2 separate regions of the Homo sapiens genome follow, and region 1 is linked to region 2. Evidence: fine-mapped expression QTL. A gene starts in region 2. The other region holds a variant in brackets. All regions are shown on one strand. Distances are between the middles of the regions.

Region 1 (8,518 bases), 170 kb after region 2:
AAAAAAACAAAAAAACAAAAAACAAAAAAAAAAAACAGAAAAGAAAACTAGCAGCGGACAATGACAATATTATGTTTCTAGACTTTAGATTTAATGTAGCTTTATCCTAACAATATTAAAGAAAATATTCCACATAAACAGTTTTTTAGTTATTCTATAAATAAAGGTTTTCTTTTTCCTATCGAAAATAATTTGGTCAGGAATTTTCTTCTTCATAATTTTTCTGTTGTAGTAGTTTATTTAAATATTTTCTAAGGGGGTTTCAAATCTGCATTTTTGATTTCTGCTTTCACTATAAAATGGATGGACAGATAAATCTTACTAAACTTAGAGAAATTGTGATTTTTAGCTAATTAATAAGATTCGGGCCAATGCCAGCTGAAAACATGGCACAAATTCAGACAGCAGTTTTAAGAAAATTTGATCAGAAGATAAAACACATATGCAAAAGCACTAACCATTTTATCAGTTTACCATTGTTCATGGAAAAGTCAAACTTTTAGCCTGGCATGCAAAGTGCTCTACCATTCATCACTGCCTCTCTCTTTCTATGTATTTCTCCTTGTTTCTCTACTCAATCACTCCAGCAGCCAAATCTCCCTGGTCCATACAAGCTCCTCTGCTTGTACTTAATTCTGGCTTGGAATATTCTCCCTTTTTCATTCTTTTTATTCAAAATTGACCACCCCTTCTAAGTCTAGCTCAAGTCCCTTCTTCATGAAGTTTGCCTGTTCGCATATCTCTCCTTCAAACTGAATCTTAACACATGTAGGGAAGTTTAAAATTTTCCCTTGAAGTTTCAATAATTTGAGTCTGTAAAACAAACTGATAATAGACTGATTACCAGGAAAAAGGGCATAAAAATTTTATTATATACACAAGATTCATACACAATATAAAAACCCAAAGAAAGGCAAGATGCTGACACTTTTGTATCATCTTGAGGTTACAGAAAGAATAGAGGATTGGATCATGGCAAAGACAGGTTATGGGAAGAAGAGGAAAGACCTGCAGAAAAGGCATTCTTTTTATACAGATAATGATACCAGTGGAGCGTGTCCGGGTTCTTGGGGTCTTGATCAAAGAACTGGACAAAACATGCAAGGAAAGAACGAAGCAACAAAAGCAGAGATTTACTGAAAATGCAAGTACACTCCACAGAGTGAGAGTGGGATGAGTGGGCTCAAGAGCCCAGTTACAGAGTTATCTGGGGTTTAAATACCCTCTAGAGGTTTCCATTGGTTACGTGGTGTATGCCTTATGTAAATGAAGAGGCTAAAGTGAAGTTACAAAGTTATTTGCTTGGTGTATACCCTATGTAAATGAAGAGGATGAAGTAAAGTTACAAAGTCTTTTACTCAGTGTACGCCCTACGTAAATGAAGAGAATGTTTCCTGTCATAGCTGATGTGCTTCCATTTGACTTAGTTCTAGGAAATCCTTAGGTTCCCTGGCTACAGGCCCTATTCTCCTCCCTAAATAAGGTACAGATGAATTCTCACAGGTAGCAGCTCTCAGAAGGAATAGATGGTAGCCAGTGGTAAATGTTTGTCACACCTTTAAAGGTTTCTAGATACGGACGGGGGGCCTTCAGAGAAAGTCTGTTTGCATCTGTCGTTTACTTGACTATTTCCTCTACAGATGCAAATCTTCCTTCAGAAGACAGCTTTTTAGCTAGTCTTGTATTTCTAGCTCCTCTGAATAGCCATCTTGAAATATGTCAAAAAAGTATGTTTTGGGATGAAATAGTTTCAGTTTCCCTCACACAGCCAATGTCCACTGTTCAGTTGGCACATATTACCGCCTCCTGAGTAGTTTTTGTCACTTGTATGAATATCCCCCCTCTTCAACTGCATTGTGATATGCTATGGTGATACAGAGAAGAGTAGGGTCTAATTAACTTTTGCAATTCCACATGAATTACAGATTTTTTTACACACAACAATTATAGCCATAGTAACCAGCTACACTCATGAAACAGATATTATATTTACTGTGAAGGAAAGATACAGAACTGAGTGTGAATCCAATTTCCACCATTTATTAGTTTTGAAGCTTTCATCAAGTTAGTCAATATATTGAAGGCTTCGCAAATGTGTTCTCATTTAATCTTCAACATAATCTTGCACAACAAGTTCTATTACTAGCTCAATTTTAAAATGGAAAAAAGTAAAGACTAGAGAGTTTTACCTAATGTCAGAAGATAAAATTGCAACAAACTTAGTTTAGAGATCTAATTGTTTTTTATTTGTAATTCTAGAATTGGGCAGCATTTTATTCCACAAAATAGAATGAGTGCTCCACTGGTCATGGCAGAACAGTTGGTTTTTGTAAGATGGGAACACAGAAACAGAATAATAGAACAAATCGGACTGGTTAACATCAGTTTACTTCAGATTATTTTTCTTGTAAGGGTTAGAGCAGAGAGAATTTCCTTATTATGATAATTTAGGTTGACTGTGCCTTTTCTAATTGGTTGCTTTGAATCTCCTGTTTTTAGGGAAAACCCATCTGTTTAGGGATTTAGCAGCTTTCTTAAAGTTTCAGTTTGATTATGTAGCGTTTTGCACAAGTAAGCCTTATTTAGTTTTGTCTGGTCTGCTGGGGCCTAGTGCAGCAGCACAGTTGAAAACAATGGCCCCCCAGTAAAATATGTTTCACACTAACGATAGTGGCTGGTAAATAAAGGATCCAGGACTTCCCTGACTGAGAACACAAGCCCTGGTATTAGGCAGAGAGAGGCGTAAACCTGCCCCCAAAAGACTGTTGAGTGTATAAGCGCCTGGCCTTATACCTGCAGGCAAAACAGATTTCAGGGTTATTTGGGGGCTAATAGTAGTGGGACCTTCATAATTACTGTAAAAATCAGGCACCTTAGCTCAAAGAAATTTTTAACACTAACCGAGGAAACTGTTAAAGGACTACTTCGTACTTGATCTACTGACAGCAAAGCTGAAAGCAAACCTGCCCTCCCTTACACTGATGAACTAGGTATTATTGGTTAAATTCACTCTCAAGGTCCCCCAAATAAGTAAGGACATAGCTTTGCTGAGCAGATCTGACAGTCAGCTAGCCATGTTACAAGGGGCATTTGTCTTCCACTAGAATTGGGCATTTGAAGTTGAAGTTGGTTTCCAATTAACCATTCAAAATTACGACAGAAAGCATAAAGAAAGAACAAGGAAAAATTTCATACACTTTTGCTTTATAATAGGTTTGACCTTTTTAAGGTTGAATTTTGTGACAGGCTATGCCACAAGAAAATCTGGAAGAAATAAAACTGGAGAGTTCTAAAAATATGAAATATATACATTGTTCACTTAAAAAAGCTTAAGCCTTAATTCAGCTAAGATGACCTAAATACAAACAAATGCCTCTTAATTATCAGGCCAGTCTGCCTAAGCTATGCAAATAGGTAGTCTCTATCCACTACCTCTTATTCTCCTCACCAATTTCACTCCTCAAGGCAAGCACTTTCAGGTCTGTTTTGTCATAACTTTTCAGCAAGTGTTAAGTTGAGAGTCATTTATTACTTTCCTCCAGGGCAAAGCCAGCACTCTCTTCTAAGTGCTTATACATGTTGATGTCTTACTTGCATGGACGTGGCCAGCCGGTGTGTTACACAGGCCAGCCAAAAACTAAGACCTGCTTTAAATTCTAGCTCTGCTGGTAACCAGTGGAATGGTCTTGCCTAAATCAGTCATTCTTAATCTCAGTTTTCTAATTTGTGAAATAAAAGTCTCATACTAGACCACAGCCAAACATTTACCTCTTTAATTTTATACCATAAATCTACCTATCATGTGTAACTTCCATAATAGCACTCTCCTTCTTATCTTCTTTCCCTTTCAGGCATTAATTTATTATTCATTACTGGCTATTAGCTACTATCATCCCTGAGGTAATTTTCAAGTCTTTATTTTTTCACTACTTTCACTCCCATTCTTCTTCCTTCTACATTCACTCATTCACAGGATTTCAACTGTCAATTATTGGAGACTGAATACTAAATTTTCAGTTTCCTGTTTTCATAACCATGAGGCTATATAATTTTTCTACGTCATTTATATTAGCAACAAAGATCACAGACTCTTCCCGTAAAGCATCCTCTGATCCTCCAAGTTCTTAAATTGACTCTTGGAGTCAATTTAGACTCCTTCAACCCTTTTCCAGTCAATTTGCTGCTAAGTCTTATTATTCTCTCTACAAACTTTCCTTGTGAGATTTGAAACCACTTTTATCAACAACTCAACTATTAGGACTGAGAACTGAGGCCACCTATGTCAACAAGACTTAGCTGTTTGTTCAAGGA[A/G]ATACTTGTCCAAGAACGTAAGACTATATATAACCCAGCAGACAACTTTACAGTTAGTTTCAGTAAAAAATTGTTTCATAGCGATAAGAAGTTTTTTTTTTTTCTAGGTTCAAACAATTATCCTGCCTCAGCTTCCTGAGTAGCTGAGAATACAGGTGTGTGCCACCATGCCCAGCTAATTTTTGTATTTTTAGTAGAGACGGGGTTTTGCCATATAGACCAGGCTGGTCTTGAAACCCTGATCTCAAGTGATCGGCCCACCTTGGCCTCCCAAAGTACTGAGATTACAGGTGTCAGCCATTGCACCCAGCCAGATATGAGATTTTAATATCCTGTAAGAACATACTAATGTATTTGACTGTCAGCCTTCTGTCTCTACTCTTCACATGGTCGCTAGACTAATTTCTTTTCTTTTTTTTTTTTAGTTTGGCCATGTACACACACTCCAGAATCCACTAGAATTTTTTAACCTGCAGAGCCAAATTACTAATACATACAGTTAAAGCCCTTCTCATCAACCATCCTACCTTAACTGTTGGGTGACTGATTTTAAGCTACTTTTCTCATTATTGTCTTACCTGTATGAGAATCTTTTCTCATAGGAACTTAATTTCCAGCATTTCATCATCAACCTCTAACTTCCTGCTTTTACCAGGGGGTCTGACTATCTACGAACACTAATCCACACTCAACATATTCTTTGCATCTTGCCTCAGTAGTCCTCATTTTTCAAGAAAGTTTCTAGCCATAATAATTCATCAACTAATTTAAATCACTCTTTTCATCAGTCTTCCCAGAGTTTCTTTTATTATTTATTTGTACTTTAAGATATTTTGTGAAAATGTCTTTCAGGTTTTAATGTTTGTTCCCTCTCTATGGCAGAGTGAGTTGCCCTCATCAAACATTCCATCTTCAGCCTCACATATCCCTACCTCTTTGCAGTTAGATAGACCCATGTGAATAGTTTTGGCTGGAAAATAAGTGAAATGTGTCACTTCTGAGCAAAAGTATAGAAGAGTGGGAGTTCAACTCACCAGTTGTCTCTACCACTATAAGGCTTCCTGTGCCAGATGGCACAGCTCCAAGATGGTAGAGCCTCTATTGGCGTGTGCACCCAAGTGATGCTATACAGCAAATCTTCAAAGTGGCCTACACTGGACACATAGTGAGAGCAAAAGTAAACCTTTATGTGTTAAGGTGCTGAGATTATAAATAATAGAGTCTTCTAAGTTAGTCAAGTGACTTTTGGTAAGAGATTATTTATTCAGTTGATTTTACAGTTTTCTCCTCAGTATACAGTGTAGTCTCCATACAAGCATTGTAATCAATAAATACTTTTGTCTATATTGTTTTGTATTTATTTTTCCCTAAATATAATTGGCCCCAGAATTTTATTGCAATAGAAATAAAATCAATGATAATGCTCTACAACTCTTCCTTATATCATTCTAAATGCTGCATTTCAGATATTTTAAAAATTAGTTGTAAAGTTTTTAAAGAAGATAGTTATCTGCGTGTATCTGTCAGGGATTAATCAGAGAAGCTGAGCTCTGAAGAGTTATGGGATAAGGGATTTGTCATAGAAATTAGGCCTTACACATTTGGAGGAGGCAATGGGTAAGGATAGTATTGAAAGAGAGAATAGAAGAATCAGAGGAGATACCCATCAGTCACTATAAGAAGTCAGCAAGTGCAGGCACTGAGGTGGAACTACAAAGGGTGAGCTGGTAGAGAAGTTCTTAAGAAACTGTTGATTCTATGGGTCTTCAGCCAGTGTCTAGTGAGGGACTTGGGGCCACTCTTGGTTAGCAGGATCCGCAGTTCTGTAGGAGCTGAACATGGAGTGGAAGAAAGTGAGGACAAGCAGGAATCTTGCCATTCATGAGTCTGTCTTGTCACCACAGCTAATACTAGAGATCTTCGGAGAGTAAGGATTACTACTTAATTTCCACCTTCCAAACTTCATGCAGTTTCCCATTTAGCTAACATAATCCAAAACCATACAAAAGAGAGGGTTTGATAAGCAGAAGGGCCTGGGTCTGTCAAATGAGAGAAACTTAAGTGAGAGTAGTCAGCTTGAAAGGAAAGAGTAGTGGGTTAGAGACCGCCACAAATTCTGTACTGCTTCTCCATCAATGAGTGGAGACTATCTCCTCTTCTGCTGAATCTGAATTGGCTTTGAAATGTGCTTTGGTTTTCAGCAGGAGTGAAGTTTTGCCTATTCACCTTTATTCTGCACCAAACATAACATTGTCTTTTCCTGCCCTTAACATAATATTCAACAGAACTACTACAAAGATACTACAAATTATATATAGCAGAATATACTTAATAAAATCAAAATGAATTAAGGATTGAAAATAAAAAACATGATAATCATCCAATAAAACCAGGACATACAGTTGCATATTCTTTCATTAATTGTATTATTATTGTCTCCTCTTTTTACCTATACTTATTAGATTCTTTTTCATGAAAAGCAATTTTAGACTGAAGCTGACTGCAAATGTTTTTAAGAAAAATTTAGACAATAACTATGGATAACAAAAGCTTATATATTTACTGTAATCTATCATTTGATAATATTTTACATAAAATTTACCAAATAATCTAATCATTTAATCTCTGCAAGATGAGAGACATTTTGTGAGTTTTCTCAGAAGCCCAATTGGAAAATCTAAAAGTTAATTTTAGACCCAAGAGACTTAATGTAGGATATTAATCCTGGAGAAAGCTGCCAAAAATGTCAAAAGGTTTAAAACACTTAATTGAAACAGAATCACAGGTCATCGTAAAATAATAACTATTTATTTAACTAGAGCAATAATCAAAAGACACAAAAACCTCAACCTTTGAAAGCTCAGTTTTCCTAAATAATAAAAAAATCTAAATAAGACAACACAGGAATTATCTTGATAAAATGTAAAATCTTTCTTTTTTATGCCAGTGTCAAAAAGGTCCAGAAAAACTTCCTGTATTGTGATTACAGCTCCTTAAGTGAAGCCCATTTGGATAAGCTGGAAGTCAAAACTGATGAAAAGGATACTTGAATTTAATTAGACATAGAAAGACCGTGTTCAGGGTTACAAGTACACATTATATTTTCGAGGAATGTAAACAAGAAAACTAGTACCTTGAAATGGGAAATATATGGCTTTTAGTAACAGCTTGGGAAGCTTCCTGGTTACATTGACCAATTTAGACATACCAAGCAAAGCCAGGTGCACAGATCACATTACATGTGAAGAAAACATTGCTTTTCTAGACCTTCAAAATAAACATTTCAGCATCAGGCCATGACAGCAAAGTTAGAACCAGAGGAAAAAAACTACAGGAATTGACAAAAATGTTGAAGGAAAGAGTTATCATCCCAGTCAAACAAACAAACAAGAAAATGTATCTTTTTAAGAGGAGAAAGAACAGAAGGCAATGATGTATGACCACAAATCACATGCAGCAAGGTACAGCAAAAATTGAACTTCTGAGATATATATCTGAGACATTTCAAAAAGCTACAGATTACAAAATTTAAAGATGTAATTTTTATTTTTAATTAAAAATGTATTTTTATTAAAAGCCAACCAATAATTTAAGAAAACCTTGTTGTTCTAACATAAGGGACCAAAATTTTTAGTTTTGTATTAGTGTATTTTTAATATTAATGTTCAATCTTTTTAGGAGGAGGGGGAAGAGCAAAATGGTAGAATAGCAGGCTCCACTGATTGTCCCTCCCACAAGGACACCAATTTAACAATTATCTACACACTGAAAAACCACCTTTATAAGAACCAAAAGCCAGGTGAACACTCACAGTACCTGGTTTTAACTTCATATCACTGAAAGAGATAGGAAAACCAGTCTCAAATCACTGATGTGACCCCCTCCCCCATCCCCTTGCAGCTGCAGGGCGGCGCAGAGAGCATTTTTGTGCACTGAGGACAGGGAAAGCGCAGCAGCTGTGAGACACTGAACGTAGTGCTGCCCTGTTATAGCAGAAAACAAAACCAGACCAAACTCAGCTGATGTCCACCCACAAAGGGAACATTTAAGCTAGCCTTAGCCAGAGGGGAATCCCTGATCCCAGCATCTGAACGGGAGTTCCCACAGCCTCACCACCATGGGCTAAAGTGCTCTTGGGCTCTAAATAAACTTGAAAGGTAGTCTAGGCCACAAGAGCTGCAACTTCTAGGTGAGCCCTAGGGCTGAC
Region 2 (8,518 bases):
TATAGTTACTAGCATTAAATATTATACTGGATTTTGTTGCCTTAAAAATTCTACACATTCTGCATTAAAGACACATAAATTTTGCATTTAAATTGTTAAATGGAGGTTAAAAGGGGGAAATTGTGTGTAATATTTAATCAGAATAATGTATAAAACTGATAGGGACATATTATTATGCCAAGATTTTGGTATAGCTTCTATTTAAAAATACAGTTGACTGTTTTAGGTCACTTAATCTCAGTTCTTAAGAGAAAATGAGAGCAACTTATTAAAGGCAAATCTCCCCTCTAATTTTGCTGAATGTTATTATTTCCCCAATAAAACATGACTCCTTTTTAATGAAGTCTAAGGAATAACAGGAACTACAGCAATTCATTTAAATTACCATGCCTACAGGAAAGATTAACTTTGAACAAGCTACGCTAACTGACTAGTTGAAGAGCTACTCACAGATCAACTCTCTCCCTTCGCCATGGGGAGAATTTCACCATAATTTTGTTTAAATATAAATTGATGCCACAGGTAAATCGTGTTTACTTCTAGCACTGACATCTTCCTAACAAATCAAAAGTAAAAGACTTTATAAGAATATTATATGTATTGTTTTAACTAGATGTTTTTATCACCTTGTGTTAATATAGCACCTTGCTCCAAATTTGTCGACACTATACATCTTTCATCTTTTTAACTAGGATACTCTTTATGGTATATGTGGTACATTTCCTTAGGCAGAAAAATTATTATCAGTACCCTGCACCAGTGTAGAGACTGAGTGCTTCAGAATCATTGTACCTTTGTATGAAGAAAATAAACAAAAACTAACATATAGGTTAATTCTAATTATGACTGGCTTTGTTGAAATAAAATGTAATAAAATCTATAAACATCAAAAATATGTTGTCTGGAAAAGACATCTGTAATAAATAACCTTAAATGTTTAAAAAACTAAAGAATGTCTATAAATAACCTTTAATGTCTAATTGTCAATTTCCATTACATCAGTTAATATTGTAAACTACTCTTCAGTAAGTCTCAAAGTGATACATAAACATGGATTGCTTGAACAGAAACCTTGCCACTATACTAACAAAGTATTTCTATCTGTCTAGTAGGCCTAACCTAAAGAAGCAGGTGCTATATTGTGGTCTATGCAAAGCTAAAGACACATACAGTTACTATTGTAATAAACATATCTACAACACAACTGCCCAGCTTGATCTGACAAACTGCTTGGTTCAAACAGCGGTCAATAACAATACACTAAGTTAAATTTTAAAAAATTGTATGCAGTTCATTGAAATTAATTATATATGAATATGATCTACCCAAATTATTTATTCATAGTTAATGAACGTTTACATCAGAACCAGGTTGATAATTTTCCACTGTGGTGTACAAAATGTAGTTTATTTACTGTATGTAGCACAGTAAATATGCATATGATATGATGTGACAGGACAAGTGAACTGCTTTAATTTAAACACTTTACTGAGCAACTTGGTCAAGGATAATTATGGTAAGATCTTGTAAGTGAATAATGAAAATGACACAAGAGCAAAACTTTTTAAAAGCACATTGGATCCCTTTTAACTACAACATTAAGTTGGGGCTGTGTAAAACAATATATACTTGTGGATTGGAAATTGAAATTTCAAAGGCAAAATCTCAAATATTGATCAGATTTTCATTTTATTAATACTAAATTCAGACTCTGGCTTCAGTTCTCTACGCAACCTCAGATAAATATTTTTCATTGTACGAACTATTTATTTAAGGTCATCTTTTTCAATTTATGGACATCTGAAAACTACTAAGACAAATCCCTCTAGGGAAAAAAATGAATTGTAAATCACACACAGAGACAAACAACTGGGCTTTAAGCCTTCCTTCCCATACTCTAATTGGATGAGTGATTAAGAAGGACTTCTCTTGTTTGTGGTGGTGCCCTCTAACGACTAGACGGACCTTGCTTTAATAACCACTCCATGTGCAATTTGTTTTAGCATTTACACCGTTGATGGTAGGAAGCAATTCTTCTTTAATGGATGCTGAAAGCTTCAAGTGAAATCTGTAATTGACAAAGGCTTCACAGAAACAGGCAATTAAGAATAAAATTAACAAGAGGCTCTACAGGAAAAGCACTCAAGCTTTCAAAGAATACTTCTCCAAGAAAATATTTAGTAAAAATAAAAATTTAAAAGAACCAAGTGTGGTTTCTTCCACTTTACTATCTGCTTCTTGTATCTGTGTGTTTGTTAAAAAGATGACCATAGAGTTAAAGTCATTGGGTCCAGAGGAGTAATCCGCCTCCTAATATTATTAGGGGGAAAAAAAGGAAAGAAAAAAATAAGAAAAGCCCATCGTGAAAGTTGAGGCAAGTTCAGCACCTATTTCTTCAAAATAACAGCTGTTCAGTTGAGTTCTAGTACCTCGCATTGAATGGGGTAGTGTGTAGACAACAAATAAAATCGCTCTGAATAGCGAAGCAACAGGGACAGGAAGGCGAACAGGGCACTAATTGCCCTCATGGCTCCAGGAGCCAACAGCAGTCCTCACGTGTTACTAGTCCAGTAAGTGATACAAGCAGATCCGAAATGACGAATATAAACAAGAGCACGAGAGTGAGTGGAAAAGGAACAGAACTGTCAACCGCATTCTTTGCCCAGTCCTCCAACCCCCAACCCCCCAAAAGGAAGTTTACCTGTGGCTATAGGTAGAACCAGGGGAGGGGGCCCGGGCTGGTTCTCAGACGAGTTACTCCGCGGGTTTGGGGGACGCAGGTCTCCCGGTGGGGAAGGGGCGGGGAGCACTTACTTTGAGCAGCTTGCAGCGAATCTGCGCGGAGACCATGTGGCTGTTGCGCAGGTTGCCCACCCGGAACATAAGCGTGAGTTTTCCGTCCCTCATGGAGATCACCGCGTGCTCGCTGAACATGAGGGTCTCGGCGCGCTTCTTGGGCTGGGACATCTTGATGAACATGCAGCCGATGAGGAAGGCGTCCACGATGGAGCCCAGGATGGACTGGAAGAGGAAGAGGATGATGCCCTCGGGGCACTTGTCTGTGATGTATCGGTAGCCATAGCCGATGGTGGCCTCCGTCTCGATGAAGAAGAGGAAGGCAGAAGGGAAGTTATAGACATTGGCCACGCAAGGCGTGTAGTTACCGACGTGGGCTTTGTTCAGGTCGCCCCGAGTGTAGGCGATCACCCACCACATGGACGCCATGAAAAGCCAGGCCACGGTGTAGGTGAGAATGAAGATGAAGAGGTTCCAGCGCCACTTGAGGTCCACCAGCGTGGTGAAGAGGTCCGAGAGGTAGCGGCTTGTCTCGCTGCCCAGGTTGCCGTGCTGTACATTGCACCGGCCGTTCTTGTCCACGAACCGCTGCCGCTTCTTCTTGGGCACAAGCTGCTGCTGAGGGTCCTGGCCTGGCCCCTGGGGCTGCAAGCCCGAGCCGCTGGACGATGTGGTCACTACCTGATAATCGTCCCCAAATTTCCTTCGGAGTGCAGACATAATACGAAGGGGCGAGCCAGATTCAAACGCGAAGCGAAGGCGCAGGAGCTGGGCGCTGCAAACTAGCACCAATAAGGAGGTGGGGGCGGGGGAGGAAAGGGGGCGAAGCGAGCGCTCCTGGGTGGGGGGCGCACCCGGCAGGTAGCTGCGGTCTCTGCCCCCTGCAGACGCCTCTCCTTCTCCCCTGGGACGGAGGCCTTCTTTCCAAGGTGAGTCTTTAAAAAGTGTTCTCCCGCACTCAAGCCAGGAGGGATGCAAGGAACAGGAACCCAAGCGCAATTTTGCCTCCAAGCTTCCAGAGGCTCCTCTTTTCTTTCCCCACCACCGGCATCCCGGGTCACCTCTTGACTCCCCACGGCCCTCCTGATTATCCTGCAGTACCCCCAAACTGACTGCTTAAAATTAATGAGTTGACAAGCGAGTCCCAACCCACCTGCCAACTCGCTGGCTGCCTAAGAAGCTGCCTTTACCTGCCTGGACCAGACCCTCCCCCCTCCCCGCCGCTCCCCAATCTCCCGCCCCCTGGGACCGCTCCCCGCACCCCCGGCGCACCTGTCTCCTATCTTTTAGCCAAAATCCCGCCCAAAGGCATGTCTGCCGGGCACTGGTGCAACGCCCCCTACCCACGCCCTCCGGGCTCAGATTCCCGGGTTCCGGACTCCAGAGACCTGTCCGCCTGGCGTCCCCCGACCGCCGAGTTTCCGCGGGCGCCACCGGGGCCCTCCGGCGGACCCTCAAGGGCCCGCAGGCCGCCCCCGCGCTCAGCTGAGACACGGCAGTGCGCGAAGCCTGGGCACTCACCCAGCGGGAGAGGGCAGGAGGCGGCGCAGCGGGCGGTAGCGGCAGCCTGGCCTCGCACTCTGCGCTCACGGCTGTTTTCCTCGTTCCCACTTTTCCTGGTGTACCACGATGGGCGCCAATGCAGGTCCCCCAAGCTCCGCACCTCCCTGAGGGCACCGCGCTGTCCCTGCCAGAAAGATCCTTGGCGCACAGAGCACAGAATGACTCGAGCGGGGGCTCGTGGGTTCCTTGGCGCTGTGCCCTCCTTCCAGGCGACAGCGGTGCTGCTGGACGGGGTTCGAGCCTTGGGCTGCCGGTCAGACTTTCAGGTTAAACAGTAGCGCCGCTCTAGCTTTTCCTCTGCCTCTTCCTTCTTCGGTCCCCCACTCCTTGTCAGCGCCTCGGTGGCCCCGGGTGGAAGATGCGAGGCGCAAGCCGGGGCAGCAGGAATGTGGTGTGTGTGGTGGTGCGTGTGATCAGCTGCAGAGCCGCGCTAGCCCCGCCTGTCCCTGCCTTCCCCCGCTGCTCCACCAGCCTGAATTGCACCTCCGAGCCTCAGTTGAGCCTGCAGTGTCTGGCAGCTCAGGAAAAGCGAGCCCCTCCAATGAGAAGCGGCTCTAAATCTGCTCCCAAACGCCCGCCAACTCTCCTTCCTCGCCCCCTGCATCAGTCAGAAAGCCCCCAGTAAAAAGCAAATGCTGCTCTCTGAAGGAAGAGAAGTACAATATGTCTCTGTAACTGGGCACTCGTTTAAACGGATGCCTGGATTTGGGGTTGCATCATAAACAGAGATCCCAACTGGCTCTCAGATAGGCATATTCAGAACTCAAAGTTGCAGGAAGCAGGAGGGGCCTTAGGATGAGAACAGAAAGGAGAGAAACACTAATAGAAATCCTTTCTGCAAATGGCTCTATTAGAAAGGCTCAGAATATCTAGAGTTAATGTGTGCCTATAATTGAAGGAAGAAGGCTGGATTTTAATGGCCTCAGCCTGGCAGTTAACTTAATGGAGGGGCAAAGTGCAGAAATAGCTAATAGAGTGCCCATGAGTAAATACCAGCTTGTTTACCACATTTCACGTTTGCTTTAAAATGCCATGGTATCTTAAGGCATATTTCAGTCAGCCCAGATACATGAAGTTGATTTTGTTGGAAAATCATCAAATCATGGCATTATAAAAGCAAAAGGCTGCTATAAGATTCCCATGGAAAGGAAAATAAGTACATAATTACTCTATGCATTCTCTGCCAATAGGTACTCCTCTCTACCTCTCTACTTATAAACCAACTGCAGGAAAGTGCATGTCAGGTTGTCAGCCATAAGCAGGGGACTCTCACTGTTATTTGGTTAAAACATCTATCCTCAGTTACAGATGCTTCTCCTGCCAGTTCGCTGATAAAAGGTCAGTAACTATCTGTTTGTTCTCTTAAAATTACATAAGAAGGGAAAGTGACACCGTGGGAAGTGGAAACTTCTCTGGTCCTAGAATCATAAGACCTGATTTGAGTCGCGTCTGTGCCATTTACAAGCTGTGTGACCTTGAGCAAGTAGCTGAACAACTTTGAGACCTAATTTTCTCCCCTGAGAAATTGGGAGTTTGAACATTTTCCTAGTGTTGGTATGAAAAAAGAGAGTAAATGTGTTTTTTTTATTTCTGCTATGAAGGATGTTATATAGTGGGCTATAAAGTTGCAACAAGACCAAGAAGAGATTACAAATGAGCTTTTGGAGTTGGCAGCATGCTGTGAACTAACACCTATACTCTCATCTCATCTCTGACTACTCTCCCCCAAGCTCATTATGCCCTTGGCAGCTTGGCTTCTTTCAATTCCTGATACACACCAAAGCATAGCTCCAGCCCTGGGCCTTTGCACTAGATCTGTTCCCTCTACCTAGAAAGTTCTTGCTCTGCCGCTCCGTGTTGCTCGCTCCTTCACTCATTCAACTCTCAACCTAAATGCATCCTTCTCAGGGAAGCCTTCCCTAGCATCTCAGGTATTCCCATCACATCAACCTTATCTATGTTCCTCATCTCACTTTTTTTTTTAGCTACCATTTTCTTCATTTGTTTGTTGTCTTTCTCTTCCACCATTATCAGTTGTAGCATGTAAGCTGTACAAGAGCAAGGACCTCATCTGTCTTGTTCTCTGCTATGTCTCCAGTACCTAGAAAAGTATCACATACTAGGTCCACAATAAATATTTATTAGATCAATAATATGTGCCAATCTATATCACTGGAAACTTTACATGCATTGAAGCTCTCTGAGTAATATGGAATTAAATAAAAGTAATGACTAAATCAGATCACTTATATGGCAATATAAAAAACATGTAAGTTTTTGTTGAAAAAGAGTAATACTTCCTATGCTCGTTAGCTTTAGAAATGATACTGAATCAGGTTCCAAGTCTTTTTTATTGTTATTGCTGCAATATCCCTCATAATTCCCCCTCTCTTTAAAAAAAAAAAGTCACTACTGTTCTTCAAATTCTCATTTCAAGTTAGGCCCAACTCAAATAACTTTCTTGTCTTTATTTGGTTTTCCTCTCCTGCAGACTGCCCAGGATAGTAGTACTAGATCTCTCACCTTAAACCATGTGTTTAGTATTGTTATAGAAAATAAAAGTTCTCCAGTTATTTCATCTGGAAGATCTTAAAACATTCCCACTTTTTGAAAAACACTTTTTCATGAAAAACCTTTGCCATTTTCTAGCAACCAAATTTATAAACAAATAAGTTTATACTTCAGGAGACATGGTCTAGTCTAATCCTCTCATTTTACAAGTGAGGAAATTGGGGATATAAAGGCGAAATAACTTGTTCAATGTCACAGAGTTGATAAGTGGAAACAGATTTGACCACAGAACAATATGACTGTAGAACCTGGATGCTCTACCGTCCCTTACCAGGTAGTGGCAGAGTAAGAAAAGAGCCTAGGATTCCTGATTCGTGGCAAAGGCCTTCTTCCTTTATAGGCCTAGCTTCTCATGCAGGTGAAATCTAAGATTCTCCAACACATGGCATAATCTAGCTTTCCAAATTATCTCCTACCTTCCTTTTAATGGGCACTTTGCTCTAGCCAACTTTGACTATTAGGTATTTCTCAAACATGCCCTATATTATCTTCATTTGCTCACTTTTTTTCTCATCACTTAGAATATCTTTTTTCTACACCTGCAAAGTTCAAATAATAGGCACTAGTATGTAAGGAAAGGGAAGGACTTCTTCATATTTTATTTCAATTGCTATTGATGTCATAAAGTTTTTCCTTATATACTCCCACTAAGAGTAATACATCCCTCCTCTGAACTCTCATTTCCCTAGATTTGCAATGTGGCATTTTTCACATTCTAACTGGTATTTCAGCTTAGAATTTATGAAGATTCCCTCTGAGCACCCTGAGCATCGACTTCTTAATAATTTGGTACCATCCGGTATTCCATGATCCAAACTGGCCTTACGCATGATAAACACTTGATAGAGTTTTAGAGAGAACCAAAATTTATTAAGAACCTACTTTAATGTGCCAGGTAATGTGCTTAGAACTGTACAGGTTAGCATTTATATTACACAGATAGGCAGTGAAGCAGGGATTCCAAAACACATCTGCTTATTGTCAAGATTTCTATTCTTTTAATGACACAGTCCTGCCAGGGAAATTAAATATTTTTAAGGATGCCATTTTGTCACACTTTAAATGTCACTGAGGCTTTGACCTATTTGTGACATTGAGTTCAACTCCTTGAAAATGTTCACAGATGAACCAAACTCATCTTTTCCTGTGAGGGCAGCTGCTTCCAGGATGAGGTTCTGGAGGGCAGCCAGCCCCGTTGTGCAGAGGCCAGGAGGATGTGTGGGGAATGGATGATGGAAGGCCTCCTAATCAGGTGCTGTCTGATGAACTGAAGTGAAACACTGCAAGCAGAATGGGTCAAAGGAGAGAGAGGCACACAATTTCAGGCCAGGCCACAAAGCCAGAAAAGATCTGGAAAATGTAACTGCAGAATACAAAATCATCTGGAGTCTAACATTTAAAGATAGGGTGGTAGATTACGAGAAAACTACCATACAGTTCATGAGGGTGGGGGGGATCAAAGCTATATTTAACAAACTCGGCTAGGAGCAAGCTACATATTTATTCTGCCTGGAAAGTACTTCTGGCAGTGTCTTATTTGCTGTGTCCAAAATTAGTAATATCATGAATAACTATAACTTCAAAAATG

Which allele goes with the higher level. Positions count from the first base shown, and alleles are read on the strand shown. Sizes are in standard deviations (SD) of each study's normalised expression.
With allele G in place of A in region 1, the expression in aorta of the gene that starts at base 3,597 in region 2 is lower (moderate effect, 0.48 SD a copy in GTEx).

Evidence for each region.
Region 1: its variant is fine-mapped to the expression of KCNJ3 in aorta (GTEx, PIP above 0.99).

What each region holds. Positions count from the first base shown.
Region 1 is chr2:154,527,969-154,536,486 of GRCh38, reverse strand. The region is part of intron 2 of LOC105373693 (a long non-coding RNA gene); the gene reads right to left. Among named protein-coding and RNA genes, the nearest start is that of GALNT13-AS1, 75 kb to the right of the region's middle. The variant A/G (reference allele first, on the strand shown) is at 4,312.
Region 2 is chr2:154,693,774-154,702,291 of GRCh38, reverse strand. KCNJ3 (potassium inwardly rectifying channel subfamily J member 3) reads right to left here and starts at 3,597. Exons shown (of 3, transcript NM_002239.4): 1 at 2,815-3,597. The coding sequence starts at 3,516.